4 linked regions of the Homo sapiens genome follow. The protein of the gene in region 2 purifies or fractionates together with the protein of the main gene of each other region. This does not show direct contact. Each region holds a gene or a part of one and is shown on either strand. Other genes may lie near its edges. The genes, in order: NAPA, VTI1B, VAMP4 and STX6.

Region 1 (5,025 bases), on a different chromosome or scaffold from region 2:
TATCCTTCAGCCAGCACCCATGATGGGGGCAGACATGGTAATCAATTTCAGGTCTCAGAAGTCTTTGCTGCCATTATCAGTGGACTGGAGCTGTGGGAGAAGCTGCAGGGGAGAGAGGAGCAGGGCAGGTGTCAAGGAATTTGAACCTCACCTGCACTTCTCTAGGCTTTCTGGGCTGGAGCCCCTCTCCCAGGAGTCCACCCTGGTTTCCTAGGCAGCCCCTCCTCTGTGCAATTACTGCCCCTGCTCACTTCCTGACATTTTCCCATCATGCCTGGGCACTGAGCCTCCTTCAGCTGTCTCCTCTGTAGCGAGGGGCCCTGCGCGGGGCAGGGTAAAGCACATGTGTACCAGACAGGGCCCCCAACATGCACATTGTGGAGTGTGGTGGAGGCAGCTGGTTTCTGCCCACCTTTCCTGGGCAAAGGCTCCTGCTATCTCCTCCCCCACTCCCCAGACCCACTCGGGCCTCAGACTCTGCCCACCAAAGCCGCTTCCTCCCCCGTCCTGTGACAGATGGAACAACTGTCACCGGGGCGTTCAGCCTTCCTGCCAGAGAAATGTGGACATGGGAGATTCGGTGGGCTTCCACCCATTCTCATCCAAAGCAGTCATGAGGACCGTCACATTCGACCCTCCCACTGGCTCTGAGGGGTGGCATCACCACCGTGCATCCCAGTTGAGGAAATCAAGGCCCCTGGACCCCAAGAACCCAGAGAAAGATCAAGATGGGCGCTCTGGGACTCCCAAGCCAGAGCTCCTCCCCAGGCCCACCGTCCCTGGGTCTCCCCCACCTAGAAACTGACCCAGCCCACACGTGTTTCAAGGATGCATGCGCCTGACCTCCCAAGAGCTCGCCCAGAGTCTGGGGGACCAGGAGTGTGAGAGGGACTGGTGACTGGCCCAGGGGCAGAGTGGGTAGCAGAGGTGAGGAGGAAGAGAGACTCATGCAAAAGTGTTGTTTTTTATTTTCTTTCTTGGGCCAGCTGCAGCTTCCAACCAAGAAAACCTCAAAGCATTAGGGAAGGAGCAGGTGTGGGGCTGGGGTGGGGAGAATCCCCTAAGCTCCAGGGCCCAGGGTCTAACCTGAGAGGTCGGGGCTGCAGGAAGCTGGGGGAGGCTCCCGGGGCTGGGGGAAGAGGAGCCTGCCCCCAGCAGAAACAGCAGGTCTCAGCGGCTACATGTGCTTTAGAGCTTGGCTGGGGGACAAAAGTGGGAGAGAGAGAGAAACCGGCCTCATGACTCAGCTGGTCAGGAGATAGGGGGCCAGATGCTGACCCCAAATCCCCGGCAGCACCCCTAGCAAATAGGTCTGTATCAAAGATTCTGTACAGCTGGTTTTGGGGGTGAAGGGCACCTATGGGGGCTTAAATAAATGGACAGGGGGCAAGGGATGTAGCGAGAACAGAGGGTGACTGTCCGGCCAGCAGCCTGGGCCTCTGGCGCCCCTGCATGCTGACCCCCGGTGCCACCTGCCCACTGTGGCCCGCGGCACTCCCCAGATGGGAAAGGAGGGAAGCTCTCCAGCAAGTCTCGGCCCCACCTCTCTCTGAGCAGATGGGACAGGAAGACGGGCACTGGGGGGCTGGGTGGGGCTTAGCGCAGGTCCTCCTCATCGCCCTGGATGGTCTTCTTGATGCGCAGCAGCATGGTGGTGAGCCACTGGTCCAGCCGGGAGATGGAGTCGTATTCCTTCACCTGAGGGCACACCAGGTGATAGGCTGGCCATGCTCCCCCCGTTCCCAACCCTGCAGCCCAAGGGCACTTGTCCCAAGGTTTTCAAGATCTGTCTCTGTCACCCCTGGTCTCTGAGGAGGAGTAGAGGGAGGGCTTGAGGCCCCAACTCAGCCATGGGAGCTCCCTCTTGTCTGTCTTGACTATGCTGGGCACATCATTTCCCTTGGGGGAGAAAGATATTGTAGCTTTAAAAAAAAAAAAAGGTCCATGGCTGGGCGCAGTAGCTCACGCCTGTAATACCAGCACTTTGGGAGGCTGAGGCGGGCGGATCACGAGGTCAGGAGATTGAGACCATCCTGGCTAACAGTGAAACCCCGTCTCTACTAAAAATACAAAAAATTAGCCAGGCGTGGTGGTGGGCGCCTGTAGTCCCAGCTACTCGGGAGGCTGAGGCAGGAGAATGGCGTGAACCCGGGAGGCGGGGCTTGCAGTGAGCCGAGATCACGCCACTGCACTCCAGCCTGGGCGACAGAGCGAGACTCCGTCTCAAAAAAAAAAAAAAAAGTCCAGCATCCTCACTGAATGGGTGGGAAACTGAGGCCTGGAGATATGGAAAAGGCCACTCCTGAGTGCCATGGGACACGGGGGAGAGAAGCCACGGCCTGCTGGGCATCCCCTCCCTGAGCTCCTGGCTGAGTTGCCACCCACTGTCTGGGGCAGGAGGAACAGGATGGCATTTTCACTGTCCTCAGTTAGGGGCTTCCATTCCCAAGGGGCACCTAGGGAGAAATGCTTGACATGTGCCATTAGAGGAGTGAATCAGGACCTGAGCCGGACACCACTAAGCCCGGGAATGCTGGGAACAGAGAAAGGGAAGGGAGAGAGAGCCGCGTGGGCGGCTCCACCAGGCAGAGGGAAGCTGGCACCTCTCCCATGTCCTCAGCTCCACTCTCCTTCTCACCCCTTCCCTCCCCGTCTGTGCCTCCTGGGTGCCCAAGGCGCCCACTGTGAGTCTCACACACTCACCTGGGGGACTCAAGGAACCCTGGTCTTCAGAGGCAGACAGATGTGGCTCTGAACACCAGCTCTGTCCCTGAGGGGCCAAGGCCGAGCCTCCTGACCTCCCCAACCTCAGTGCCACCATCTATAAAATGGGGAGAACACTCCCTGCGCCTCTTGGCGCTACTTGTAAGGTTTCTGGGGTGACTGGAGAAAGAACTTCACAGTGGGCTGGGGGCCAGATGAAATGGGTGAATGTCATGGAGAGCGTGTCTGAGAAGGGCAGCTTTCCTAGGAGACCCATCCCCGTGAAGGGGCCTGGCCCCCCATGCTGGCCACTCACCGACTCGGTGTAGCTGTCCACATTCTGCTCCTCGTGGGCCTCTAGCAATTTCTGCAAGCAAATGGCAGAGAGGGGTCAGGGGCCTATGCTGACCTGAGGTCTGGCCTGGATTAGATGAAAGGACACGCTATCTGTATGCCAGGCCTGGGGCTGGGGCTTCCTGAGGACTCTCAGAGGGTCAATCCGTGTGGGTTAAACTGGGGATGGGTACGGGCGTGTTGCGATCCTGCTGCCCTATTCATCAGAAACGGCTTGCTCTCAGGGCAACCTTACCAACATAGAACATCACACAGAATGTGTGTGTGTGTGGGTATGGGGGGTGTGTGTGTTGGGTGTGGTGTGTGGTGGAGGTGTGTGTGTGTGTGGTGTGTGTGTTGGGGTGTGGTGTGTAGGGGCACGTGTGGTGTTTGGTGTGTGTTGAGTTGCGTGTGTGGTGTGTTCGGTGTGTGTGTGGGGTGTGTGTGGTGTGTGTAGTGTGTGTGCAATGTGTGTGTGTGGGGTGTGTCATGTGTGGTGTGTGTGCAGTGTGTTTTGTGTGTGGGGGGGTGTGTCGTGTGGTGTGTGTACTGTGCAATGTGTTTTGTGTGAGGGGTGTGTCGTGTGTGTGTAGTGTGTGTGCGATATGTGTGGTGTGTGATGTGTTTGCTGTGTGTGGTGTGTGTGTAGTGTGTGTGGGGTGTGTGGGGTGGTGTGTGTGTAGCGTGTGGTGTGATGTGTGTGGTGTGGTGTGATGTGTGTGGTGTGGTGTGTGTAGTGTATGTTTGGTGTGTGTGGTGTGGTGTGATGTGTGTGGTGTGGTGTGTGTAGTGTATGTTTGGTGTGTGTGGTGTGGTGTGGTGTGTGTAGTGTGTGTGTGTGTGTCCACCTAGCCATCCTGAGCTCCAGCACTCCCCGAGTTGTACTTTCTTCATCTGGAAAATGGAGACTCAAATGGCCAAACAAAACAAAACAAAACAAAACAAAACAAAGACACCCTCTGAGAACTACTGGACAAGTCTTGGCGATTGTCCCACCTGGAGCCCCAGCCACCCCCGTCTGAGGTTCGGGAAGGGGGAGGCCGGAGCACCCAGCACTTACTTTCATCAACTTGCATTCCCGGGAATCAGAGAAAGCTGGGAACAGCTCCTCATACTTTTGGACAGCCAGCTGGGCAGCAGGGAAGGGAGAAGATGAGTTAGTAACAAGAGGGTCCTCAGAGCTACTGGCCTAGCAGCTGAGGGGACTTGGGGATGTCGGGTGATATTGAGTCAGCTCTTGCACCCCTCCCCCAGCCTCAGGTGTCACCTGGCTCTGTGTCTGTCAGTACCTTCCCGTAGCTGAGCTCAGCACCAGCCTGGCTGCAGAGATGGCTGCAGGGAGAGGTGGGTGGAGGGGGAAGGTTCCCCAGATAGGCACCCACTGCCTCCTCCCACCTGGCTCAGCTGGGGCAGGGGACAAATGAGCACATCCTCCATGCCAGGCCTGGGGCTGGTGCTTCTTGAGGACCCTGAGAGGGTCAAATGACGGTGAGCCCCCTTTTCAAAGTGAGGAAACAGATCCAGAGAGGGGCAGTGACCTGCCCAGGGCACGGTGAGACATGGGGTGGGAATGGGAACCTGGTCTGACAAAGCCCAAGCTTTTGCCCACCACCGGTGCCCACAGCAGGGCAGGGCTCTGTGGGGTGTGTGTGTGTGGGGTGTGTGGGGCCACCACCCCAGGCCGTGAGCCAGGGACACCAGGAAATCCTGGACTCCGTGCTTCTGCCAGGCAATGGTAAAAAAACTCCGGCCAAGCAAAATCTAGCGCCAACCCTCCAGCTCCTTCCCGCTGGCCACGCCCCCTCCCACTGCCCTCTTTGGCCCCTCTTTTGCCAAGTGTCCTGAAAATAGGTGGGCATGTGTGAGCTACAGCTAAAGCCACGACAGCAGGAGTCACAAAGATCTGGAACACTGGGGCTGCAGGTCCCTAGTCATGTGGCCTCAAACAAGGGACTCTCGTCCCAGCCTCACCATCTTCACCCATAAGAC
Region 2 (8,098 bases):
GACTCTGTATCAAAAAAAAAAAAAAAAGAAAAGAAAAGAAAAAAAAGTAGACTGCAGGCCAGGCATGGTGGCTCACACCTGTAATCCCAGCACTTGGGGAAGCTGAGGCAGGAGTATTGCTGTGTTGAACGATTTTGAGACCAGCCTGGGCAACATGGTGAAACCTCATCTCTACAAAAAATAAAAAAATTAGCCAGGCATGGTGGTGCATGCCTGTAGTCCCAGCTCCTGGGGAGGCTGAGGTGGGAGGATCACTTGGGCCCTGGAGCTGGAGGTTGCAGTGAGCCAAGATCGCACCACTGCACTCTAGCCTGGACCACAGAGCAAGACTCTCCCAAAAAAAAAAAAAAATGTAGACTGCATTTTCAACCTGGCACTGAATTAATTTTTGCAATGCCCATTTCTATAAGTCTAAATAATGCAAAAGAACATTGCTTTGAAAAATAGAAAATTGAATTCATTATTACTATGGTTTGAATGTCCCCCTCTAAAACTTATGTTGACATTTATTTGCTATTTTAATCGCATTAAGAGGTGGGACCCATAAGAAATGATTAGACCATGAGGGCTCCATCCTCAGAGATTAGATTGTTATCCTGAGAGTGGCTTGGTTGTTGAGAGAGTGGGTTAGTTCAGCCCTCTCTTGCTTGCCTGCTCTCTTGATCTGTTGCCCTTCCATCTTCTGCCATGGGGTGACCCATGGGTAGCAAGAAGGCCCTTGAAAGAATCAGCCCTCTCAGCCTTGGGCTTCCCAGCCTCCAGAACTCTGAGAAATACATTTATTTTCTTTATAAATTACCCAGACTCAGCTATTCTGTTATAGCAACATAAAGCTAAGATAGTTACATTCACCTTTGTTGTCTACCCAGCCTTTTTCTCCATCCTGCAAAGAGGACAATCAGAAATATGTGAATTTCTTTTCTTTTTTCTTTCTTTTTTTTGTTTTTTTGAGATAGAGTCTTGCTCTGTCGCCCAGGCTGGAGTGCAGTGGTACAATCTCAGCTCACTGCAACCTCCACCTCCTGGGTTCAAGTGATTCTCATGCCTCAGCCTTCCGAGTAGCTGGGATTACAGGCGCATGCTACCACACCTAGCCAATTTTTGTATTTTTAGTAGACACGGGGTTTCACCATGTTGGCCAGGCTGGTCTCAAACTCCTGACCTCAAGTGATCTGCCCGCCACGGCCTCCCAAAGTGCTAGGATTACAGGTGTGAGCCACTGCGCCCAACCACAAAATACTCTAAGTTGCTGGTAACAGACATAGTTGTTTAATGGATAAGTAAAGAAAATATATACATATCCCTAGAATTATAATAAGTCCAACAACTTTACCTCTTATTCACTACCTCATTCACACTGCTCAATAAATGTTTGTTGAATAAATTGAATTTATCTAAGCAAACACATGGTGCCTCATCTCTGAATCCTCTTTTTCTAGTTCAGAGACCACATCATAAAGTTTTCAGAGCTTTAATGCCCATCATGAATTATTAGGCACAGCATAATGTACATAATACAGTCCTTGCATGTAGCTTATGCTCTGTAATTGAATTCAGTCATTTTTCAATAAACACTGAGAATTATTATGTATCAGCCACTGTCTAGGCTCTGAGGACTTCCAGAGTTCTTACCTTAAAAAGAAACAAACGGCCGGGCACGGTGGCTCATGCTGGTAGTCCCATCACTTTGGGAGGCCTAGGCGGGCGGATCACAAGGTCACGGATGGAGACCATCCTGGTCAACATGGTGAAACCCCATCTCTACTCAAAATACAAAAATTAGCTGGGTGTGGTGGCATGTGCCTGTAGTCCCAGCTACTCAGGAGGCTGAGGCAGGAGAATCGATTAAACCCAGGGGGCAGAGATTGCAGGCGACAGAGCGAGACTCTATCTCAGAAAAAAAAAAAGGTAACAAACCTTACAACCAAGTGTGTGATTAATCCTAAAATAAAGTTCTCTGAGACCATAAAAAGGGCTGGACTTGAGCATGGGGAAGAGGGGGAAGCTTCAAAAAACTTCAAACTGAATATAAGGGATTGAATGGGAGTTTGCTAGATGGGAAATGCGAAGAGGCAACACAGGAGTAAAACATGGAATACTCCCAACTCTGGAGCTTAGAATGTATGTGGGAAAGTAGTAGTAGAGGGGCAGGTGAAACAGCCAGATTGTGAGGGGATCTCAGTGTCACATTGAGACATTTGGACTTGATATGGAAAGTCAGTAAAGGACGTAAAGCAGTTGATTGATGTGGATTTTCTTTTAGAAGGAGGGCATTAATGGCTAGACAGGACAAGAGAGAGCACAAGAATCTGGGTACAGGGGACTGTGTTAAGAGCCTTTTGGGCAGTCACCTTGCTAACGGGAATTTGTTTGACACAGGTTCTCACTCCTGTCTCCCGTCATCCAGGCTGGAGTGCAGTGGCACCATCACTGCTCACTGCAGCCTTGGCTTCCCGGGCTCAGGTGATCCTCCCACCTCAGCCTCCCGAGTAGCTGGGACCACAGGTGCATGGCACCAGGCCTGGCTAATTTTTTGTATTTTTAGTAAGGGTCTCCCATGTTATCCAGGCTGTTCTCGAATTCCTGGGCTTAAGTGATCCACCCACCTCAGCCTCTTAAAGTGCTGGGGTTACAGGGGTGAGCTACAGTTCCCGGCCCAAGAGTTGGTTTTGAGGCAGAAATTAACCAGCCTCAATGGATATGAGGAGTGAGGGAGAAAGGTTCCAGGGTGTCTGCATTTTTTCACTTGGTCAACTGGGTGAATGATGAACTTAAGTAAGAAACATAAGAGGAGAAGCAGAGTTTGGGTTGTGGATGAGAATATCAAAGGTACCTGTAGAACAGAGATCATGACATAATATAGCCTTACAAAATGTTTCTTCTTCTGCCATTAAAAATAACATACGGGGGCCAGGTGTGGTGGCTCGTGCCTGTAATCCCAACATTTTGGGAGGCTGAGGCAGGAGGATTGCATGAGGCCAAGAGTTGGAGACCAGCCTTGGCAACATGGTGAGACCTATCTCTACAAAAAAAAAAAAGCTGAGTAGTGTGGTGCTGCTCACTTGTAATCCCAGCTGCTCAGGAGGCTGAGGCAGGAGGATCACTTGAGTCTAGCAGTTTGAAGTTTTAGTGAGCTGTCATCACATCATTGCACTCCAACCTGGGTGACAGAGCAAGACTCCGTCTCAAAAAAAAAAAAAAAAATTATGAAGAAGTATGTGAATTGAGAGGCCATATAGTATAATATTTAACAGCAAGAATTCAAGAGCCAGATTGCCTGAGTTTAAATTCACCTTCTAGTAGCAGTGTGACCTTGGACAGGTTACTTTAACCCAATTAGTTTTTCCTGCCAAATGGGGATAAATCATAGTATCTACTTCACAGGGTTTTTGTGAGGAGTAAATGAGTTAATATATGTAAAGTCCTTAGAATACTGCCTGATAATAGAGCTACTAGCCATTTTATTTAAATGAAAATTAAGAATACCAGCCCTGTATACAACTATTCTTACCTTTTTTTTTCCAGAGTACTTATTTTCTGACATATTAGACACTTTCCACATTTATGATATTTACAGTATATTGTTTGTCTTCCTTTCACTAGGACAGTGGTTTCATTGTGGTCCATGAACCAGCTGCATCAGCATCATTTGGGAACTTGTTAGAAATGCAAATTCTCAGGCCCCACCCCAGACCTATTGAATCAGAAAGTTTTAACAAGCAGTGTGTTTTCACAGCCCTCCAGGGGGTTTCTGATGAAGGCTAAGTGTGAAAGCCACTGAGCTAGAATATAAGCTCAATGTTGTCTTTTTTTCACTGTGTTTCCTAAGTACCAGAACAGTGCCTAGCACAGACTAGGTGCTTCATAGATACCTATTGGATGATGGAATGTGTGAATTGTTGGAAAGAAAATATTGATATATGATTGTGATTTATTTCTATTCTGTTGTCCACATTTTCATTACTTTAAAAATGGGTATATTCCACCTATTAAAACAACAAAAACTGTATTTCTCCAAAGTACAGTCTCCATTCACTTTCTGCCTTTGAATGATACTAGAGACAATGTGTCCTGTTTTAGGAAGTTTTTGTGTAACTGTCCATTACCACTTACAATAATTATTAATCCATTTAATATTTCATTAAATACCTATGGCCATAATTTCTACTCTTGGTTTTACAACCTCTGAAGAGGTCTCTCCAATTACCTCAGAGTACTATAATGTGCTATAATTTCTTAATCTAATCAATGTTAAATGCCTGTGGTCATGATTTCTAGTTTTGGTTTTGTCATACCTGAAGACATCTCTCCATATGTCTTAACGTGTATCATAAAAATATTGAAAGTTTTCCATTTTAAATCATTTAGATCAGTATGTATAACACAAGACCCTATTATTTTCAGAGCCAGAAAAAATAGTCACTATGGAGTACTATAATCAGCTGGCCGATAAACACCAATTACTTACAGACTGTAGAATTTTAACTATTCTAACTCCTCATTTTTTTTGTTTGTTTGTTTTTTGTTTTTTGAGATGGAGTGTTGCTCTTTCACCCAGGCTGGAGTGCAGTGGCGCGATCTCGGCTCACTGCAACTTCTGCCTTCCGGGTTCACGCCATTCTTCTGCCTCAGCCTCCCGAGTAGCTGGGACTACAGGCGCCCACCACCACGCCGGGCTAAGTTTTTGTATTTTTAGTAGAGACAGGGTTTCACTGTGTCACCCAGGATGGTCTCGATCTCCTGACCTCGTGATCCGCCCGCCTCGGCCTCCCAAAGTGCAGGGATTACAGGCGTGAGCCACCGCGCCTGGCCTCTAACTCCTCATATTTTCTACTGAATTTGGTTTTTGCTCTTAGGTTCTTCCTAAGTATTTACTTTCAGAAACAATGGTGGTTTCTATTTATTGAGCCCTTATTATATTTGGCACTTGCTAAGTGAATGTTATGTGTATTATTTCTTTTAACCCTTTCAAACAACCCTTACAAGGTCAGTAGTCTTATAGTCCCTATTTGCAGATGAGGAAACAGGTTGGTTGAGAGGGATCTCTGTTGCTTTTAACTCTTGTATGGTGTGGGATCTAGTCAGCTGTCACGGTGTACAAATAAAGGGTGTAAGTCCTCCATTTTGCCACAGTGAGGCACCAAAAGCAAAGTAACCACATATTTATGAGCTGGTGAAACTGAAGTTGTTTCCACAACTTTAAAGGGCCAAGATTAGGCATTCTTGGGCTGGAAATTCAAATCCCCATAAGGAAGAGAGGCTGCCCACCTTGGTCAAACATTAAGGTAGGCTTTCTGTAGTGCTGTTTTTCAGAGCTGTCTGTTTCCATTTTACTCCATGTCAGCATCCACCCAGTTTCCCAAAGGAGACAGAGTTGGTCCCAGAGAGTCCCTCACATGTGACTGATTTGGGCAGGCTTGTGGGGTGGGGGATAGTGGTATTTGAAGTGGTTCATTCTTGTTCATGGTGCCCATTCTCCCCAGGATGCCACCTTGCTGTTTGTAGTTGATTGTAGCATCAATTCTAACTCCCTAAAAAGAGGAAGAGGTTTTTTGTTTTTTCAACAGATTTTACCAGTTGTTAAAGGCTATACTCTGGGAGCACAAAAATGCCCCTCAGTTGTATACAGTATACAGTTGTTTAATATACAGAAAAGCCTTGGACTGGGAGTCAGCACACTTGCATTCCAGAACTAGTGCTGCCATACATTTGCTGTTCCAATGACTGTGGGGCAGGCACTCAGTTTCTCCAGGGTCTAGTGTCCTCAGTGGTAAAGGCAGGAAGTTAGACTAGATGATCGCTGAGGTACATCCTAGCTCTAGCATTCATTGGTTTCATAATTCTGAGCCTAAAGAATTTTTAAAAAGCTGCTATTGATCCCTCTCAGTTGGGTAGAGATCAGTCTCTTGAATTATCTGCCTCCCTGGCTTTATCATCACAAGAAATGATTTCAAAGGTTTCTGTTTTGTTTTGTTTTAAATCTTAGAAGTCCAGAAAGGATCTCATAAATGTAGTGAAGTTCTGTAAAAGTATGTTGTTATAGAGCACTTATAAGAGGAAATGTGTTTTATGAAATCAGGTAGGAAATGGAATATTCTAGCACACAGAAGTTAGTGAAAGGAGAGAGGTTCTGTGGTCTTCTTCTCCCCCTTTCATTTATGTAGTTACATTCCTGGAATCATTCTAGAATTTGCCTCTTGAGAATGCGGATTTTCATACCCATTAACAAAGGAAGAATAAAGGAGGAGAATTTATGACTAAACACAGTTGTAGAAAAGTCTAGGAAAGGAAGGAGCTAGGAAGGGAATGTACATATGTGTACAGTACTGCTTCTTACTGTCTGGCTTGGATCAGGAGTGAGCATGCCTGAGTTTGGAGATGTGCTGACTCAGAGCAGTGATGATGCTCAGCACTTTTGGGACAGCTTATTACAAAATAATACAATACTGCTCCATGGAAGTAGCCGTTTTTGACTGTCGGTATTATTTCAGTACTGGTAGCTAAGAACACATCCCCCTCAGGAACAGTAATAGCTGCCTTGGTGCTCATTTCAGTTACATCATAGATGGTCAAGAGTCATACCATTTGCCATGGTGAACCTTCCTCTACCTTTTTTTAAACAACAAACAGCCATGGGTTTTGTGAGTGGTATGGAGAAAATTGTCTGAAGTATCTTGTGTATATTAAGGGGGTGGCACACAACAATGAATGAGACATAGTAAAGGGTGTGTTGTCATTTGCCCTTTCAGGCAGTAGCCACATCTAAGGAGGTTTATAGTTCTAGGATCTATGGCACAGTAAAAATGACAAAATAAATTTCCATGTTTCAGAGGAACTTGGTCTCAAGTTGAGATTATAGAATATACGCATCCAAAATGATTTATGGTCACTTAAAAAGTGGGATACAAGGACAGGTGTGGTGGCTCACACCTGTAGTCCCAACACTTTGGTAGGCTGAGGTCGAGGATTGCCTGAGCCCAGGAGTCAAGACCAGCTTAGGCAACATAGTGAGGCCCCATCTCTACCAAAAAAAAAATTAGCTGTGTGTGGTAACCTGCACCTGTAGTCTCAGTTACTTGGGAGGATGAGGCAGGAGAATTGCTTGAGCAGGTGGGAGGATTGCTTCAGCCTGGGAGGTCGAGGCTGCAGTGAGCCGTAATCATGCCACTTCACTCCAGCCTGAGTGAGACTGTCTCAAAAAAAAAAAAAAAAAAAGATATAACTGACATTAGATGCTGTTGTGATTAACAAAATGTAAATCCATATAAAGCATTACAGTGACATTACATCTTATGTAGGATTGGGTTCAAAAGTCAGGGCTTGGCCGGGTGCACTAGCTCACACCTGTTATCCCAGCACTTTGGGAGGCCGAGATGGGTGGACCACACAAGGCCAGCCTGGCCAACATGGTTAAACCCCCTCTCTACCAAAAAATAGAAAAATTATCTGGTTGTGGTGGTGCACTCCTGTAACCCCACCACTCAGGAGGCTGAGGCATGAGAATCACTTGAACCCAGGAGTTGGAGTTTGCAGTGAGCTGAGATGACGCCACGGCACTCCAGCCTGGGCAACAGAGTGAGACACAGTCTCAAAAAAAGCCAGGTCTTAAGATGAAAATCAGAGTAGACAAATCATCTAAGAAAATCTCAGGACAGCAACTGAATACCCACATGCCATTTCTCCATAAGCCCGGCTCATCTGTTCTCTTTTGCAGCGGAAAGGCTGAGGTGGATGGATCACTTGAGGTCAGGAGTTTGAGACCAGACTGGCCAACATGGCAAAACCCTGTCTTTATTAAAAATGTAAAAAAATTAGCCGGGCATGGTGGTGGGTGCCTGTAACCCCAGCTGCTCGGGAGGCTGAGGCAAGAGAATCGCTTGAACCTGGGAGGTGGAGGTTGCAGTGAACCGAGACCGAGCCACTGCACTCCAGCCTGGGAGACAGAGCAAGACTCTGTCTCAAGAAAAAAAAAAAAATTGCTCTTTAGTTGGTGGAAGTGCTGCTGGCTTGTGTTTAGGAGTCACATTGAAAAATACATAGCTTTAAAAGGCCATATCCCCATACGTGCAACAGCATAGATGAACCTTGACTTTGTGCT
Region 3 (8,098 bases), on a different chromosome or scaffold from region 2:
AAGCTGAGATCCAAATAACAAAGAGCCAGCCAAAGATCAGGGTGAAGAGCATTCATTGCTGCAGGACTAGATGGCTGGCACAGAAAAAGTCCAAGTGTATTAGTTATTCACAATAAATGTGACTGGTTTGAATGTCCCTATTTAATAACAAAAACTATATGTGATTAGGGTTCAAAAAAATTCTAGCCAATATCTGTTTGCAAGAAATTCACCTAAAACAAATACCAAATAAAGGATGGGGAAAAGCAGGGGTAGAAAAGAAACATCAGCAAATTCTAACAAAAAGAATGTTACAGTTAGCAATATAAAGAGGAATTTTAGGACAAAGTATTAAACAATCAAATAAGATGATTTTACAATAATAAAATATACAATCCATCAAGAAGATTTAATAGCAACGAATGTTTAAATACCTAATAATATAGCTTAAAGTATCTTACAGAAGCTGCGCAAATTATGAGAAACAGTTACATCAAAATCATAGGGAGGATTTAACATACCCTTCAGAGATGGAGAAGCCAAACACACAAAAAAATCTAGAACTTTGAAACTAGACAGCAAATTTTATTTTATTTTCCTTTATGGGTAAGCCACAAAGGACATTTAATAAATTCCAAAAAATAGAAATTACACAAGTCATATTCTCTGACCATAATGCGATGGAAAAAGGAAGTTTTAAAATACTCTTCTCAGCTGGGTGCAGTGGCTCACACCTGTAATCCCAGCACTTTGGGAGGCCAAAGTGGGGGGATCACTTGAGCCCAGGAGTTCAAGACCAGCACTGGCAACATAGCAAGACCGTGTCTCTATGGGAAAAAAAAAAAAAAAAAAAAAATTTAATTAGCCAGGCATGGTGGCTCATGCCTGTAGTCCTAGCTATTCAGCAGGCTGATATGGGAGGATCTTTTAAGCCCAGGAATTTGAGGTTAGAGTGAGCTATGATCATGCCACTGCACTCCAACCTGGGTGACAAAAGGAGACCCTGTAGCAAAAAACCTCACAAAAAACAAAAAACATCCTTCTCATTAACTTTTATGTTAAATGTAAATAAAGGTGATTAGACTATTTTGAAATGAAAGACACTGGGAAGATCACAGGTCAAAATCTGAAGAGTATGGCCACAGCAGTACTTAAAGGAAAATGGGACCTTAGACATATTTTGTTATGAAATCACAAAGATTGAAAATATATAAATAGTTAACTCTTAAGATGGGTAAGTTATTCCTAAACAACACACAACTCCAGAAGTCTGAAAGAAAAAGATTAACATATTTGATTATATAAAAATTTAAAACTTGAACATAAGACATCAAAAACAAGGTTAAAAAACAAGCAACAGACTGGGAAAAAACATCTGCAGTATCCTTTAAGACAAAAGACCTGATGTCTGTATTATATAAAAAGCTTTGACAAACTAGTAAGAAAAAGAGACATTATAGAAAAACAAAGAATAGAAATAGATAATTCCCAATAGAAGAAATGGCCAATGACCACATGAAATGTTCAAAACCAATTAATATTCAAGGAAATGCATTAGGTCATTTTTTAAATAAATATTTCTTGAGTAATATTCTAGCTAACAAGTAACAGACAAGCATTACATTTATAATATAATGTATTTGGTTTATGGCCGGGCATGGTGGCTCACGCCTGTAACCCTGGCACTTTGGGAAGATGAGGAGGGAGGATCACTTGAGCCCCGGAGTTCGAAACCAGCCTGGGCAATACGGTGAAACCCCATCTCTACAAAAAAAAAAAAAAAAAAAAAAAAAATTAGGCGTGGTGGTGTATGCCTGTAATACCAGCTACTCTGAAGGCTACTTGGGGGGATTGCTTGAGCCCAGGAGGAGGCTGCAGAACCCTGATCGTGCCACTGCATTCCAGCCTGGGTGACAAAGCCAGACCCTGTCTCAAAATAATAATGATAATAGTAATAGTAATAATTTATTTGGTTTAGAGGATAATGATACTAAAGATATGTTTACTATAATTGTACACTGAGAAACACACATGAAAACCAATGCTTTTTCATATATTAATTGAATAAACACAAGTGCTAGGGATACAGTGTCAAAAAAGAATAATAGGACACAATGAGATAATATTTCATACCCACTAGGCAGATAATATTAAGTGTTGGTGAGGATGTGGAGAAATTAGAATCATCATACATTGCCGGTGAGAATGTAAAAATTGTACAACCACTTTGGAAAACAGCTGGGCAGTTCTTCAGAAGGCTGAACAGAGAGTTACTACAATACTCAGCAATTCTACCTTTAGGTATACACCAAAGAGAAATAAAAACATGCTCAAACAAAAACTGGTATGCTAATGCTCATAGCAGTAGTATTTAAAATAGCCAAAAGTAGAAAAAAACCCAAACATCTATGAACTGATAAATGGGCAAACCAAATGTGTTATATCAATATAAGGGAATATTATTAGCAATAAAAAGGAATGAAGATCTCCCAGCACTTTGGGAGGCCGAGGTGGGTGAATCACCTGAGGTCAGGAGTTCGAGACTAGCCTGGCCAACATGGTGGAACCCCATCTCTACTAAAAATACAAAAATTAGCTGGGCGTGGTGGTGTACGCCTGTAATCCCAGCTACTTGGGAGGCTGAGGCACGAAAATCACTTGAACCCAGGAGGTGGAGGTTGCAGTGAGCCGAGATCGCACCATTGGACTCCAGCCTGGGCAACAGAGGGAGACTCCGTCTCAAAAAAAAAAAAAAAAAAAAATGAAGCACTGATATGCACTATAACGTTGAGGAATCTTAAAAACATTATGCTAAGTCAAAGAAGCCAGTCACAAAAGGCTATATGTTATATGATTCCATTTACAGAAAACGTCCAGAATAGACAAATCTATAGGAGTGCAGTTGCTTAGAGGCTGAGGGGATAAAGAAAATGGGAGATGACTGCAAAAGGGCACAGCATTTCTTTTTGGGCTAATGAAAATATCCTAAAATTGATTGTGGTGATTGTTGCACAACTCTGTGAATATAATAAAACTCACTGAATTGTACACTTTAAGTGGGTGAATTGTATGGTACGTGACTTTTATCTCAATAAAGCTATTACCAAAAAAGTATAATAGGAAAGAGGAACAAAACTTTTAAAAGATTTTAAAAGTAATTTATATATTATTCTAACCAATCAGTTATCAAACTTCATAATATAATAAACATCAAAAAGGAGTTCTCTTGAAACAGTCAATTTTATTCAGTTCTGGTGTCTAATATACTAATAATCAATGAAGAATATAAGGAGAAAGTGATACAATTACAGTCTCAGCAGTGGAATTTATTGAGACAATACATTTTAAATTTAAAAATGTATTCATAAAGCTTATTTATTTGTATTATTTTTAATTTAAGGTTTACTATTGTTTTTCTTGAAGTAATTTTTCCTGCCCTTGTTATTAGGGTGGGCTTTATGTACTATTTAATCTGATTTCCACACATATTATTAAACTGGTATTTAATATCTACAAATAATAATTTTGTCACTATTTTCTCAGGATTATGACCAACATGCCATGAAACTGTGATCCTAGTATATCACGCCTGGACTTGATTTTTAAAAAGCAATCATATTCAAGTGACTGTGTCCTTAACAGTGATTCCATTAAGTGAACAACAAATTTACGTTCAGCAGTGATTGTGAGAAAGAAACACAGGGGAACTTAGGAAATATAAATAGTTTCAGTTTAAAATCATGTAAAAATAAAACTATAAAATTAATGGGATTTGCATCAATTAAAAATTATTAAATAATATACTCTTGCATACTATACATTGAATTTGGCTACAACCTTCTCTGCTTTACATACATTTTTCAAAATTGACATAGATTGTATGAATTACAAACAAGTTCCGAGAGGTGATTTTACTACATACATTTCCATACTTCAGTCTTCATCTTACACAAAGGCAGATGTGACTTAGGGGCTCTCTGTCCAGGACTGAGGTATTTACCTGACATATCTCAGATATCAGTCAATCAACTGTCAGCATTTATTGATCATCTTCCAGGATATTAATGCTTTGCAAGCATCTCTGGGTAAGTGACTAAAGATTTCCTTGGGGCAATAGGAAAGAGGCTCAGATTCTTCTAACCGATGATTTAAAAAATATTTCAGCATGCTTTGTGCACGCTGATCACTGAATATTCATCAGGAGCTTTCAGTCAGCTTTTACTGGATGCATATCAAGTCTGTGTTGTTTTACACTGGGTTCCTTTATAGGTTCACAATTGGTATCATTTACTTTAACAAATTGACATTTATTCTCTGAATGGGTTTAGTATTTCGCCAAACCTTCTGCTTTGTAAAGACATGCTTTTTTTTTCTTTCTGAGATGGAATTTCACTCTGTCACCCAAGCTGGAGTGCAATGGCACAATCTCGGCTCACTGCAACCTCTGCCTCCCAGATTCAAGCAATTCTCCTGCCTCAGCCTCCCAGGTAGCTGGGATTACAGGTGTGCACCACCGCACCTGGCTAATTTTTGTACTTCTGCTAGAGATGGGGTTTCACTATGTTGGCCAGACTGGTCTTGAATTCCTGACCTCAAGTGATCTGCCCGCCTCGGCCTCCCAAAGTGCTGGGATTACAGGCGCGAGCCACCACGCCTGGCCAAGACATGCTTTTGATAGTAAATCTTCAGTGTATGGAATTCCAGCACAGGTATATCAAATTTTCTGAATCACTTTTTCTTGGAGGTTTATCTTGAAAGATATTACATTAAAGAAAGAGACCCTGGATTATCCCTGAGTGATTTCTCAATCCCTGATCATCCTCTGCCTTCTCTCGGCCAGAGCCTTCCGGGTTCACCCAGACTTGGTATATTTCAAGGCATTTCTCAATTCCTTGCATGGGGAACTAGCTCAAGCAGACACTAAGAGTTTCACCATGGCATGGAGGAAAAGATAGGTGACCAAAATGGTTGAAACTGCACCAAATGCTAGTAAGCAGTTGAAATTATGGCAAAGAAGGAGTAACTGGATTTGGCAACATGGAAATCATTGGTGACTCCTTAAAGTTTATTAGTAAAAGCTTGCTAGCAATTAATCTATTGGTGGATTCTATTTCCCCATTAAAAAACAAAACAAAACAAAACAAAACAAAACAAAACAAAACAAAACAGGCCGAGTGCAGTGTCAAATGTCTGTAATCCCAGCACTTTGGGAGGCCAAGGCAGGTGGATTACTTGAGCTCAGGAATTTGAGACCAGCCTGGGCAACACGGCAAAACCCCATCTTTACGAGAAAAACAAAAACTAGCTGGGCATGATATCATGCACCTGTAGTCTTTGCTACTCAGGAGGCTGGGGTGGGAGGATAGCTTGGGCCCAAAAGGTGGAGGCTGCAGTGAGCTGTGATTGCACCACTGCACTTCAGCCTCAATGACAGAGCGAGACCCTGGTCTCAAAAAATAAAAACAAACCATCAGAAACACACAAAACCGCAAAAGCTGTACAAAGGGTTAGAATAAGGGGAAGAAAATGTTTCCTGTGTTGTACTAAAAGAAACTTATGACTAAAAGTCATAAGATGGTGGACAGAGTGGATAATATGAAGTTCTGAGGTTGTCCAAAAAGAGCATGTAAAACAAAGCAGACTAAAAGCTTTGCAAGGGCACAGACTATGTCTTCCAATTTTTAGCCCAGTGCCTAGCACATAGGAGGTGGTCAATACATATTTGTTGAATGAATCAAGACAAGAAGGAAAGGAAGGAGGGCTTCAGAATGGTGCATTAAAAAAATAAGAACGTGAATTATTTCCCCCAATAAATATGTATTGAGTACTTATTCTAAAAGTAATCTGCCTACAACATTCATATAAAATGTTGTCTTTTAAATGCGGCATAATTTCTAGATTTATATATATTTGCATAGAATGTTCTGGAATAAACTAGAAATTGAAGCATTATATAAAAGATACTCTGGAACATAAGATAATTACAGGTCTGGGGACCTTTATTTGCAATTCCAAAATCTAAAAGCTTCTGAAAATCAAAAAGTTTTGGAGGAAAATTTGACCTGAACTGATGTTAGCTAGTTTATTTACACACTTTATTTACATAGTTAGTTAGATATAACTAAATATAGACTTCACTGAGAAATATTAATATTTTTGGAGGCACTGGTCCAGGCCCCAAAAATGCTGTTACATAATATGTTCTTAACTTTCTAAAATCTGAAAAATTCCAAATACATTCAAAGTTCTGAATAAGATATTGTGTATTTGTATAAAACTCCCTTTCAAAAACTAGAAAGAAGCTATGAGAATAATGATTTGATCAATAATGGAAGTAGAATTCAGTTGTCACCAATCTAAGTAACATGTTTTTAAATACATTTGCTATGAAGAAAACAATTAGGATTAGAATATAGTCATAAGCTTTTGATTTTTCTGTTGTTATTATTATTAGTTAATTAATTTTTGAGACAGGGTCTTGCTCTGTTGCTCAGGCTGGAGTGCAGATCACAGTTCACCACAGCCTTCATCTCCCAGGCTCAGGTGATCCTCCTGCCTTAGCCTCTTGAATAGCTGGAACCATAGGCATGTGCTACCATGCCCCATTAATTTTTTAAAAATTATTTATAGAGACAGGGTCTCCCTGGGTTGTCCAAGACAGTCTTGAACTTCTGGGCTCAAGCTATTCTGCTTCAGCGTCCCAAGTGCGGCGATTGCAGGCATGAGCAACCACGCCCGGATGGTTTTTCTTCTATTATTCACAAAGGGAATGAAAACATATTTTGAATCTTTTGTTTTTAAAGCTTAAGATTCCGAACTTACCCTTTCACTTTTCACAGAACCTGTGACATCATCATCATTGAGGTGGCGCTTAAACTTGGGAGGCATATTTTTTACTTGCAAAGTATCTTTTGCTTCTCAACAGGATAGTCACCACCTTAAAGAGAAAATAAATTTCATCAGATTTGAGACTTTGGGGCATAAGCTAATGTACTTAAAACAGTGTACATGAAACCCTGTATGACAGGGACTCCCTCATTTTTCTGACTTCAATTCCTGCCCTCTCACTTGTTCCACTCCAGTGACTGGGGCCTCCATGCTAGACCTCAACACCTAAGAAATAGTTAAAATTATGAGAAAATGGATGTAATTGCCCTAAGAGAACATGTGTAGGATATGAGTGATTTAAGATTTTTATAAAATGAAAGAGCAGAGAGTAGAGGGAGGACGTCTCACTGAGACATTAAATGCTTTACAATTTAAAGTTGGAGTCAGAAGACAGGAGAACATGCCTATTTCTCTCACTTTTAGTTGGTTGCTTAAGCAATGATTCAGTTTCCTCAGGTGTAAAATACTGATTTTCAGGCTTCTGCAGAGTTGGGACGGTCAAATTGGATAATACATGCAAAAATATTCTGCAAACTATAATGTCCCATTGGTACTCCATGAAAAGGGGTAAGTTTGGTAAGTACTGGTGTGATATCGTGATTTACAAAATATACTCATTTGGTCTTAATCCCCATTTCCTGACATATCCTTGGAATCGCTGCAGTGATGTGTCTTGTGTATGCTAATAAGATGACTGGTAGCTTAGCCCCCAGATAGATTCCAGATGGAGGCTGGTCACAGAAAAACCTAGGCATGATTAGAAGACTGGGACTTTACAGCCCCACCCCCTAGCTTCCTGGAAGGGGAGGAGGGCTCAAGGTTGAACTGATTTCTAATAGCCAATGATGTAATCAATCATGCCTACTAAGGAAGACTCCATAAAACCCAAAAAGGACAGGGTTCAGAGAGCTTCCCAAAAGCTGAACAAGTAGAGAGTTCCTGGACGGTGGCACACCTGGAGAGGGCACAGAAGCTCTGTACCCCTTGCCCTATGCACCTCTTCCATCTGGCTGTTGATCTCTATCCTTTATAATAAACCAGTAAACAAAGTGTTTCTCTTAATTCTGTAAGCCACTCTAGCAAATAAACTGAACACAAGGAAGGGATTGTGGGAACTCTGATTTATAGCCAGTCAGTTGGAAACACAGGTAAAACAACCTGGAACTTGTGATTGGCACCTGAAGTGGGGGGAATCTTGTAGGATTAAGCCCTCAACCTGCAGGATCTGATG
Region 4 (9,033 bases), on a different chromosome or scaffold from region 2:
GTGAGGTCAGGAAGTGTTGGCACTTTATTCTGCAGGCCAGCAGCAGCCACTGAATAATATTAAGTAGGGTACACCTGTCTAGGACTCTAGAAAAGCTTACACTGTGCTGTCCAACACGGAAGCCACATACAACTACTGACTGGAAATGTGGCTAGTGTGACAGAAATTAAATTTTAATTAATGTAAACTTGGTAACTGATAGCAATTCAGTTATCAAAAACCTTTTATGTATGTTTGGAACAATTAAAGAGTATGTAGGCCGGGCGCGGTGGCTCACGCCTGTAATCACAGCACTTTGGGAGGCCGAGACAGGTGGATCACAAGGTCAGGAGATCGAGACCATCCTGGCTAACATGGTGAAACCCCGTCTCTACTAAAAAATACAAAAAATTAGCCGGGCGTGGTGGCGGGTGCCCTGCCCATAGTCCTAAAAATACAAAAATTAGCCAGGTGAGGTGGTACACACCTATAGTCCCAGCTACTCAGGAGGCTGAGGTGCAAGAATCGCTTGAACCTGGGAGGCAGAGGTTGCAGTGAGCCGTGATTGCACCACTGCACTCCAGTCTGGGCAACAGAACAAGACTCTGTCTCAAAAAAAAAAAATGTATTTAATGAACTTTAAATACAGATCAATTATTTCTGATGAAAATTTAATGTCCAAATTTAAATGTGCAGTAAGTGTAAAATATGTATCAGATTTAGAAGACTTAGTACAAAAGTAAAATATCTCATCAATAATCTTTAATCACATGTTGAATATTTTGAATGTATTAGAGATTACATTAGAATTAATTTCACCTGTTCCTTTATATTTTACTGCGGCTACTAGAAAATGTAAAATGACATACATGGCTGGCATTATACTTCTATTGGACAGCAATGATCCAATAGATCCCAGGACAGCTGAAAGAGGAAATGAGACCAGAAGCAGGAAGAACAATTAAAAAGACTCTGATAAGCATCCAGGTAAGAGAGACAGGCCTGATTATCTAAATTCTGCCCATCTTCAAAACCTAATTCAAGATACACTACTGCCTCCAAAAGCTCTCCTAATCCTAACAATTCCCAAGGAGTTACCTTTCTCTGAACTCCTGAGGCACTTATCTGTAGCATTCACTTCAACACTCATTCATTTGCCACCTGTCATTTCTATTTAATTTTGGGGTAATTTGTTTCTCAGATTAGACCAGAAGCTCCTAGGCTAAGGGCCATAATTTAGGCACCTTTAATTTTTGCATGCTGTGTAATGCATTTTTGATACTTTTAATAAACACAGGTACATGACTCCCCAAAAATCTGGATACACCTTCATGGGTGACTTTACCTTTCCACAGCAGAAGGAACTGAGAATCTCTTTTCCTTCAAGAACCTTAAAGATAGGAGCTAAAATGATGTAAAAATCAATCAAAACTCCCTCCAAGCCAATGTTCCGATAAAGTAGTGATATTTAATCAGTGAGCAAGCATTAGTAGACTGTATAGGATACCATCAAGAAAAAAAAATGCCAAGACAGAAGAATTTAGGCTTTTGACAAATTCCATAAAAAGTCAAACAAAAAATTTCTGATCATCTCTGATCTCTACCGCCAGAGATAACCTTTGCCAACCTAAGCATTAAGAACTTTCAATCAAGGAAAAAACATCTATTTTAAAAATTAACCCCTAAATCAATCCTTCTAATAAATATCACATTTTCTAGGTAGGGATACACATATTACCAGTAAATTTACAACTCAGCATTTTCCCATCTAAATTAGAGTAAGGTGAAGAAAAAAAACTTTCCAGGGAAATATTAAGAAGTAGTATAAATGTATTTTACTGCATAATCGATAAAGTATTTCACCTAAAATACCATTTAAATTTTCTACAACACTTGACTATACAACGGCCAGCTTGCACCACTACAGAAATAGGAAGCTAGCAGCAACTAGTAAAAAGCAAGGGACATTCTGTGGTGATCAGTACTGACCTGGGAACTTTGCAGTTTTCAGATTTTTCATGTTTGACATTTAAAACAGAAAACTGACAAGTTTCTAATAAGAAACTAAAAGTTACATCAGAATTGATCTTCTTGCATGTGTTTAATGGCTACGAAGTGGATATTACAAAGTGCAGTTGAAGACTCTATCTCCAAAGAAACAATCGAGCAATCAAAGATGAGCTAGGATAGCTTGTAAGGGAACAGAAGGCAGTCCTTTCTATTCTGAAAGGCAGAAGAAATAGGAGAAACCTGTCAAACAACCTGGATGAAATCAAGGAGTTAACAAGCAACACTCATTTCCTTTAGCACTGTGAGAAAATTCCGGTTGCTAATAGAAAGCTGAGGAAAGTTTGGTTTGGCTTGTTTCATTTTGTTTTCCTTCCAAATCATCACTGAGTATGAACGACTGCTTTCCTCTCCTCACATTACTCAGTAAAAACTCCCCCATTGAATTGTCTTCCGGTGCCCTGCTCCCCAGCCTCCCAGAACGGCCCCCGCCCCCGCCTCCCTCCCAGCAAACGTGCTCAGACGCCTCTGGGCTTGTTGTGGTCTCGCCAGTCTGCGGACAAGCGCTCCAAACTCAATGGACAATGGAGCTCACCCCCGTCAACGCGAACTACAAAGCTCAGGAGGGCCATTTCCCTTTTCCTGCCCAGATGCTGTTTTCGCTCCTTCGAAGCAAGATCCCATGCTCGACTAGACGGCCAGTGTGCGCCAGGACCCGCGTGTCTCCTTCCCCACCTGCAGAGCTGCTGAGCCCCTCGGCCCCCAAATAAATTGTACCGCAGCACACAGGCCAAAAAGGGCCCCCCACCACCAGGGGCTTGGCTGGGGACAGTGGCTTCACGGTCCAGGTAGGGATGGAGGGAACGTCTCTTGACGCTTGGTCATGGCCCTCAAGACTAAGCCGTCTCCACTGTTCCCCCTCCCCAGCTCCAACTTGCCTCCCCTCCCCCCACTGCGAGAAGACCTAGGAGGTGCGGGCAGGCAGCACCGCCACCTCTTCCTCCGGTGGAGCGCTCGGCCGACACTCACCCTTTCACCACAAAGAAGGGGTCCTCCATGGACATGGCGTCCCGGCCCCGGCCGCCTTCACCTCCTCCGCGCACAGGGCGCCCGTGCCTCCCGGTCTCCCTCCGCCCACCCCGCCTGTTCCCGCAGCTGCCCGCGCCTTAGTCTGGGTGAAGCCGAGCAGCGGGCACGCGCACAGGCCAGGTGCACAGGACGGCCGCTGGTCCAGCACTCGCTCAGCACCACTGGCCGAATCCCGGACTCGGGCGCCGGCCCCCTCGGCAGCCTCCAGTCCCGGCTCCTCCCGAAGCGTCGGAGGGCCTGACCCCACCCCCGGGACCCTCGGCCGCGGCCAATCACGAACGCCGCCTGAAACACGACTTCCGCACCCCGCTCACGTGACCAGGGCATATATCTCTCTCTCTCTCTCTCTCTCCTCTCTCTCCTCTCTCTCCTCTCTCTCCTCTCTCTCCTCTCTCTCCTCTCTCTCCTCTCTCTCTCTCTCTCTCTCTCTCTCTCTCTCTCTCTCTCCCCCCCCCCCCAGTGGGCGGGGCTTACGCCTGCGTCCCTCGGCCCTGGAGGCGGAGCCCTCGGGGCGGTGGAGGTGGGCGGGCTTCTACAGCCCTCTCCTCAAGCTTGAGGGTGAGGAGTGGCTTGTTCCCTCAGAACTAGGCAGTCGGCTTTTCAGGATAAGCTGTAGTTGTACCTGATTTGCAAAATCCTCTTACCTTTCCTCTACTTTTAATACTTAATTTTGACAGTATGTAATTTATAAATCTATCTGGTCCTCGACTTAAAATGAAGCATAGTATCTGATTATAATGTTACACAGATCCTTTAAGTAGGTCTTGCTTTGTGTTGGACAGTGTGCTAAAGGTTGTGTATGCATCATCTCAGTATCCTTTGGGGGAAAGTATTATTCCCCCCTCCCCCTTTTTGGGGGGCAGGGTCTCTCTCTGTCACCCTGGCTGGAGTGTAGTGGCACAATCACAGCTCACTGCACCCTTGACCTCCTGGGCTCAAGCGATCCTCCGGCCTCAGCCTCCCGAGTAGCTGGGACTACAGGTGAGCGCCACCACGCCCGGCTAATTTTTAAATTTTTTATAGAGATGGGGCTCTCAGTATATTTCCTAGGCTGGCCTTGAACACCTGAGCTCACATGATCCTCCTGCCTCTGCCTCCCAAAGTGGTGGGATTATGGGCGTGAGCCACCACACCATCCATTTTTCTCATTTTGTAGATAAGAAAATAAGTTCAGAGAGGCTTGAAGACTTCCTGTAGTCACACAGCCTGGACAGGGCAGAACTGCAGATTCTGTGCACTTTCCACCAGATGGGGTGTACTTTCTGTTGCTGTACATTCTGCAAATAACCATGTAAAGTAATTTTTCATACAGCATATGGTGCTTCCCAGGAGAGCACACCTTCGAGGAATAAAGAAGGGGCCAGGTATGACAACTTCCTCTCACTGTGGTTCAAGAGCTATTCGAGAAAACATTTTGCCCAGAACCATTAACCAACTCATATGCTAGATATGCTATGAAATTTGTGGATGGGGATTGTGGACTTTGATTGCTGAAAATCATTGAGCACTTACTGTGTGTGTGTGTCAGGCAGGATGTTAAGTGTTATCTCAGTTGCTCTTACAATGTGATAATTACTGCTATCATGCCCATTTTATAAATGAGAAATCTGAGACTCGGAGGTTAAGTGACTTGCCCAAGGTCACCAGTCTGGAGCTGGCACAGTCCTTGGAGCAACACAAACCCCGTTTAAACCTTGGCTCTATCATTCAGTTCCTCATCTATAAAACATAAATAATAATAGCTAGTTCATGGGTTGTTGTGATGGTTAAATAAAAATGTGTGTAAACCTCAAGATCCCAAAGGACTAAGTTACTGAAGTCAGGAAAACCAGTAAGGACGCTGCTAAAGTCATGTGGCCTGAAGGGATGAGGTCCAGACCAGGATGACAGCGATTGAGAACAGAGAAGGAGTGAATCTGACAGATGTTTCAAAAGGAAAACAAGACTAAACACCTAGACATGATGAGGGGCTGAATGGGTTTCAGGAGGGGAGAGAAGAGAGGGGTGAAAGCCAAAATCCCTGGAGGAGCGAATGATGGAAGGCAGATGTGGGGAAAGGAAGCAGTGTCCAATACTAGTGATTGCTAATGTTTATTGGGAGAGAACTGTTTAATTTACTTAGCTGGGGAGGTGAAAACGTGTCATCGTTCATTCATTCAACAAGCACATGTAAATTGAGGGGTAGGTGAGCATGGTGTTGAAGACCATCCTTGGAGTCTGATTGCTTGAGTTCTGCTGCTTCCTGACTGTTGCATCTCAGGCAAGCCGCTTCATCTCTCACTATCCTCAACTGTGAAATAGACACCGTAATAACAGCTTCCTTATAGAGTGTCATGAGGTGATGTGTGAAAAGTGCTTAAAACAGTGCCTGACACATGTTGTGCTCCTACTGTGTGCTAAGCACTGAGACACAGGCATGAACAAGGCTTGGTTCTTGCCTTCAAGGAACTGTCAGACTGGTGGGAGAGACAGACTGGTGGGAGAGACACACAGTGAGAGAAGGGCACAGGTTGCCATAGAAACACAGCGACAAGATACCAGTATATTTGTGTGTTTTCGGGGCTGGGGCAGGGGGTTCCTAAGCAGTGACTAGAAGCAGCCAGGAGAAGGGGGCCATGTTGCTGGAGTAGAAGGAAAAGGATGGGGGCAGCAGGAGCTAAGCCTGGAGGTGGACAGGGTCAGATTATCAGGGCCCTTGTTTGTAATGTTCAGAATAGTGGACGCTTCCTATGGACAGTTCCCCATGGGGACTGAGGGAATTGACAGGGTCAGATTGGCATTTGAGACAGATGCTTCAGTGGCTAGGAGGTTATGGTCCAGAGGAGGGATGAGGGTATCCTGAGCTGGGCTTGTGACAACTAAGGTGGAGAAGAGTGATGCATTTGAGACATACTTTAGAGGCAAAGTTAGTATACTTGGTGACTGATTGGTTCAGGGTATGGGGGAATTGATGAAAGAAGAGGGAGGAAGGCTTCTGGGGTTGTAAATGGGTAGTGTTGGTTCCAACCATCAAGAAAGAGAACACAAGAGGAGGATTTGATTTAGGGTGAATGTAAATTAGCTGTTAGCATGTCATTTATCCCCACCAAACAGTAAACTCCTGGAGGGACAGGATACTATGTTAATGTTATTATCACCTAAGTGCCTGACACGGCCTCTTATTATCTGTTCCATGAATTTCTTAATTGGACCACATATGACAGGCCAGAGTTTTATAAGTAGTAATAGAAGATAGAGGACAGAGGCTTGGGTTCCCATAATTAGGGGATTAGAAAAAGCACCAACAATGGAGATAGTGGAGTGTCAAGATATAAAATGTGTGTATGTGTGTGTGTGTGTGTAGGTGTTCCTTTCTTTAATGTGTCACCCTCCTTTACCCTCTCTCAAACTAGACCTTGGCCTCCACTGCCCACAAGGAAAGGGAAGCTATGGCTAAAATGCAAGGAGAAACAAAGGAGGTTCTTTCTTTCTTTCTTTTTTTTTTTTTTCATTTAATAGGACCCACGTCCTGGCATAAACAATAGGTTGGGAAGAATACTCAGCAAAAACCCATCTCTTCCCACACCCCCACCCCTACCCCACCCCCAACCCAAAAGAATAATTTAAATTTCTCAGGGAATAAAAAATCAAAACAGTGGTTGTCTTGGGGGACAGAGTTTGACTGGGAAGGGAAACTTTCTTGGGTACTAGAAATGCTCTGTATCTTGACGGAGTGTGTGTTACATGAGAGTATCATTTGTCAGAATTCCTCAAACCGAAACTCTTAATTGGACTTAACTTCTGTTCATTTTTCTGGGGGAGGTTGACATGCCAACTCTGAGCTTTCTGTAGAGTTCTGAGTGGGCAGCCAGGAGAACCTCTGGTTCCTGAGTGAGTCTCCAAAGTTAGGAGAGTGAATGAGGAAGGGAGCACACTGGGTCCTGCAATGCATCTTCTGCAGAAATAAGGAGATGGCAACACAGAGAATAAGGCACAGGCAGCCAAATGAGCTGAGGATCAGAAAGGAGCCAACCATATCACTGGGGATGCCAGGATAGACCTGAGAGGGATTGCAGTGGGTAGCCACCCCCTGCCCCTGGAAGCTGCGGGAATGCCATGACACCCCTACAAGGGGATCTCCCCTACTCTGAAATAATGACATTCAGCCTGCTCCTTCACTAGCCTGTTATAAGGAACAACTGGATCATATATGGGAATAATTTTTTATTTTTTAAATTTTTTATTTTTTAAATTTATGAGGCCGGACATGGTGGCTCACACCTGTAATCCCAGCACTTTGGGAGGCCAAGGCGGGCAGATCACAAGGTCAAGAGATCGAGACCATCCTGGCCAACATGGTGAAACCCCATCTCTACTAAAAATACAAAAATTAGCTGGGCTTGGTGGTGCGTGCCTGTAGTCCCAGCTACTTGGGAGGCCGAGGCAGGAGAATCACTTGAACCCAGGAGGCAGGGGTTGCAGTGAGCCAAGATCACGCCACTGCCCTCCAGCCTGGCGACAGAGCGAGACTCCATCTCAAAAAAAAAAAAAAATTTAATTGTGGTAAAATACACATAACATAAAATTTACCATCTTAACCATATTTAAGTGTACAATTCAGTAGTGTTAAATATATTTGCCTTGTTGTGCAACCAATGTCCAGAACTCTTTTCATCTTGCAGAACTGAAACTCTATACCCATTAAACAACTCCCCATTCTCCCCCAACAATCTCTGGCAACCACCATTCTACTGTGTGTCTCTATGAATTTTACTACTCTGGGTACCTCACATAAGTGGAATCATACAGGATCTGTCTTTTTATGATTTGCTTCTTTCAGTTAGCATGATATCTTCAAGGTTCATTCATTCATTCTACATATTGCAGAATTTCCTTCCTTTGTAAGCCTAATATTCCATTGTATATATACCACATTGTGCTTGTCCATTCATCCATCAGTGGACGACACTTGGCTTTCTTTCATCTTTTGGCTATAATGAATAATGCTGCTATGAACGCTGGTGTACAAATATCTCTTTGAGACCCTGCTTTCCATTATTTTGGATATATACCCAGAAGTGGAACTGCTGGATATGGTAATTCTATTTTAAATTTTTTTGAAGAACAGTCATATTGTTTTCCATTTTACATTCCTGCTAAAAGACACACGCATTCCAATTTCTTCATATCTTCATCAACACTTGTTATTTTCTGGGTTTTCTTTTCCCTTATAGCAGTTGTACTAATAGGTGTGAGGTGGTATCTCATTATGGTTTTGATTCACATTTCTTTAATAATTAGTGATGTTAAGCACCTATTCGTGTGCTTATTGGCCATTTGTATATCTTTTTTGGGGGGTGGGGAGAAATGTCTATTCAAGTCCTTTGCCCATTTTTGATTGAGTTGTTTTGTTTTTGTTGAGTTCACCCTAAATCCTTCTTGAAACAAGGTAAAGAAAGGGAGAAAAGTGTTAACATAGATATAGGATATCATACTCTTCATCATTATCCAACCTTTTAGAAACCCTGATATACATGTACATATTCCAGAACATTCCACTTATGTTAAGTTCCATTGATCTGGCTATGACTGTCTATGTTTCCTACCTCCAACCACAGAAAATATCCATACACATATCCAAAACACACTGGCCATGATTTATTTCCTCTTCCTGTTTGTTACCAACACCTCCACCACTGTCACCCTCTACACACTGATTTAAAATAAACAAGGAGGAATTCCAGTCAATTTACATATTCAGCACTAAGGAATGATGGAGAATTTGTGGAACATCCATTTGGTGGTCATTAGAAATGTTGTTTAAAAGTATGTAATGACATAGGAATGGCTTGAGTAAAAACAGCAAGACACAAAATTATACATATGATACAATTTCAGCTCTGTTCTTTCTTATACATTAAAATGTTTTGGTACATAGAAAATTTTTACACGTAGGAAAAAAGAAATCTATTTAAAGTT

The links.
Region 1: the proteins of VTI1B (region 2) and NAPA purify together in Homo sapiens (affinity purification with mass spectrometry; 5 studies listed by BioGRID and IntAct, with this or other methods). This does not show direct contact.
Region 3: the proteins of VTI1B (region 2) and VAMP4 purify together in Homo sapiens (affinity purification with mass spectrometry; 5 studies listed by BioGRID and IntAct, with this or other methods). This does not show direct contact.
Region 4: the proteins of VTI1B (region 2) and STX6 purify together in Homo sapiens (affinity purification with mass spectrometry; 5 studies listed by BioGRID and IntAct, with this or other methods). This does not show direct contact.

What each region holds. Positions count from the first base shown.
Region 1 is NC_000019.10:47,486,692-47,491,716, forward strand, and holds the end of NAPA (alpha-soluble NSF attachment protein), read right to left. Parts: intron 4,166-5,025; coding exon 4,097-4,165; intron 3,071-4,096; coding exon 3,020-3,070; intron 1,699-3,019; coding exon 1,597-1,698; 3' UTR 946-1,596; downstream 1-945. UniProt on the Homo sapiens protein: Required for vesicular transport between the endoplasmic reticulum and the Golgi apparatus. Together with GNA12 promotes CDH5 localization to plasma membrane.
Region 2 is NC_000014.9:67,664,377-67,672,474, reverse strand, and holds part of VTI1B (vesicle transport through interaction with t-SNAREs homolog 1B), read left to right. Parts: intron 1-8,098. UniProt on the Homo sapiens protein: V-SNARE that mediates vesicle transport pathways through interactions with t-SNAREs on the target membrane. These interactions are proposed to mediate aspects of the specificity of vesicle trafficking and to promote fusion of the lipid bilayers.
Region 3 is NC_000001.11:171,731,548-171,739,645, forward strand, and holds part of VAMP4 (vesicle-associated membrane protein 4), read right to left. Parts: intron 6,917-8,098; 5' UTR 6,868-6,916; coding exon 6,802-6,867; intron 1-6,801. UniProt on the Homo sapiens protein: Involved in the pathway that functions to remove an inhibitor (probably synaptotagmin-4) of calcium-triggered exocytosis during the maturation of secretory granules.
Region 4 is NC_000001.11:181,019,624-181,028,656, forward strand, and holds the start of STX6 (syntaxin-6), read right to left. Parts: upstream 3,248-9,033; 5' UTR 3,051-3,247; coding exon 3,016-3,050; intron 1-3,015. UniProt on the Homo sapiens protein: SNARE promoting movement of transport vesicles to target membranes. Targets endosomes to the trans-Golgi network, and may therefore function in retrograde trafficking.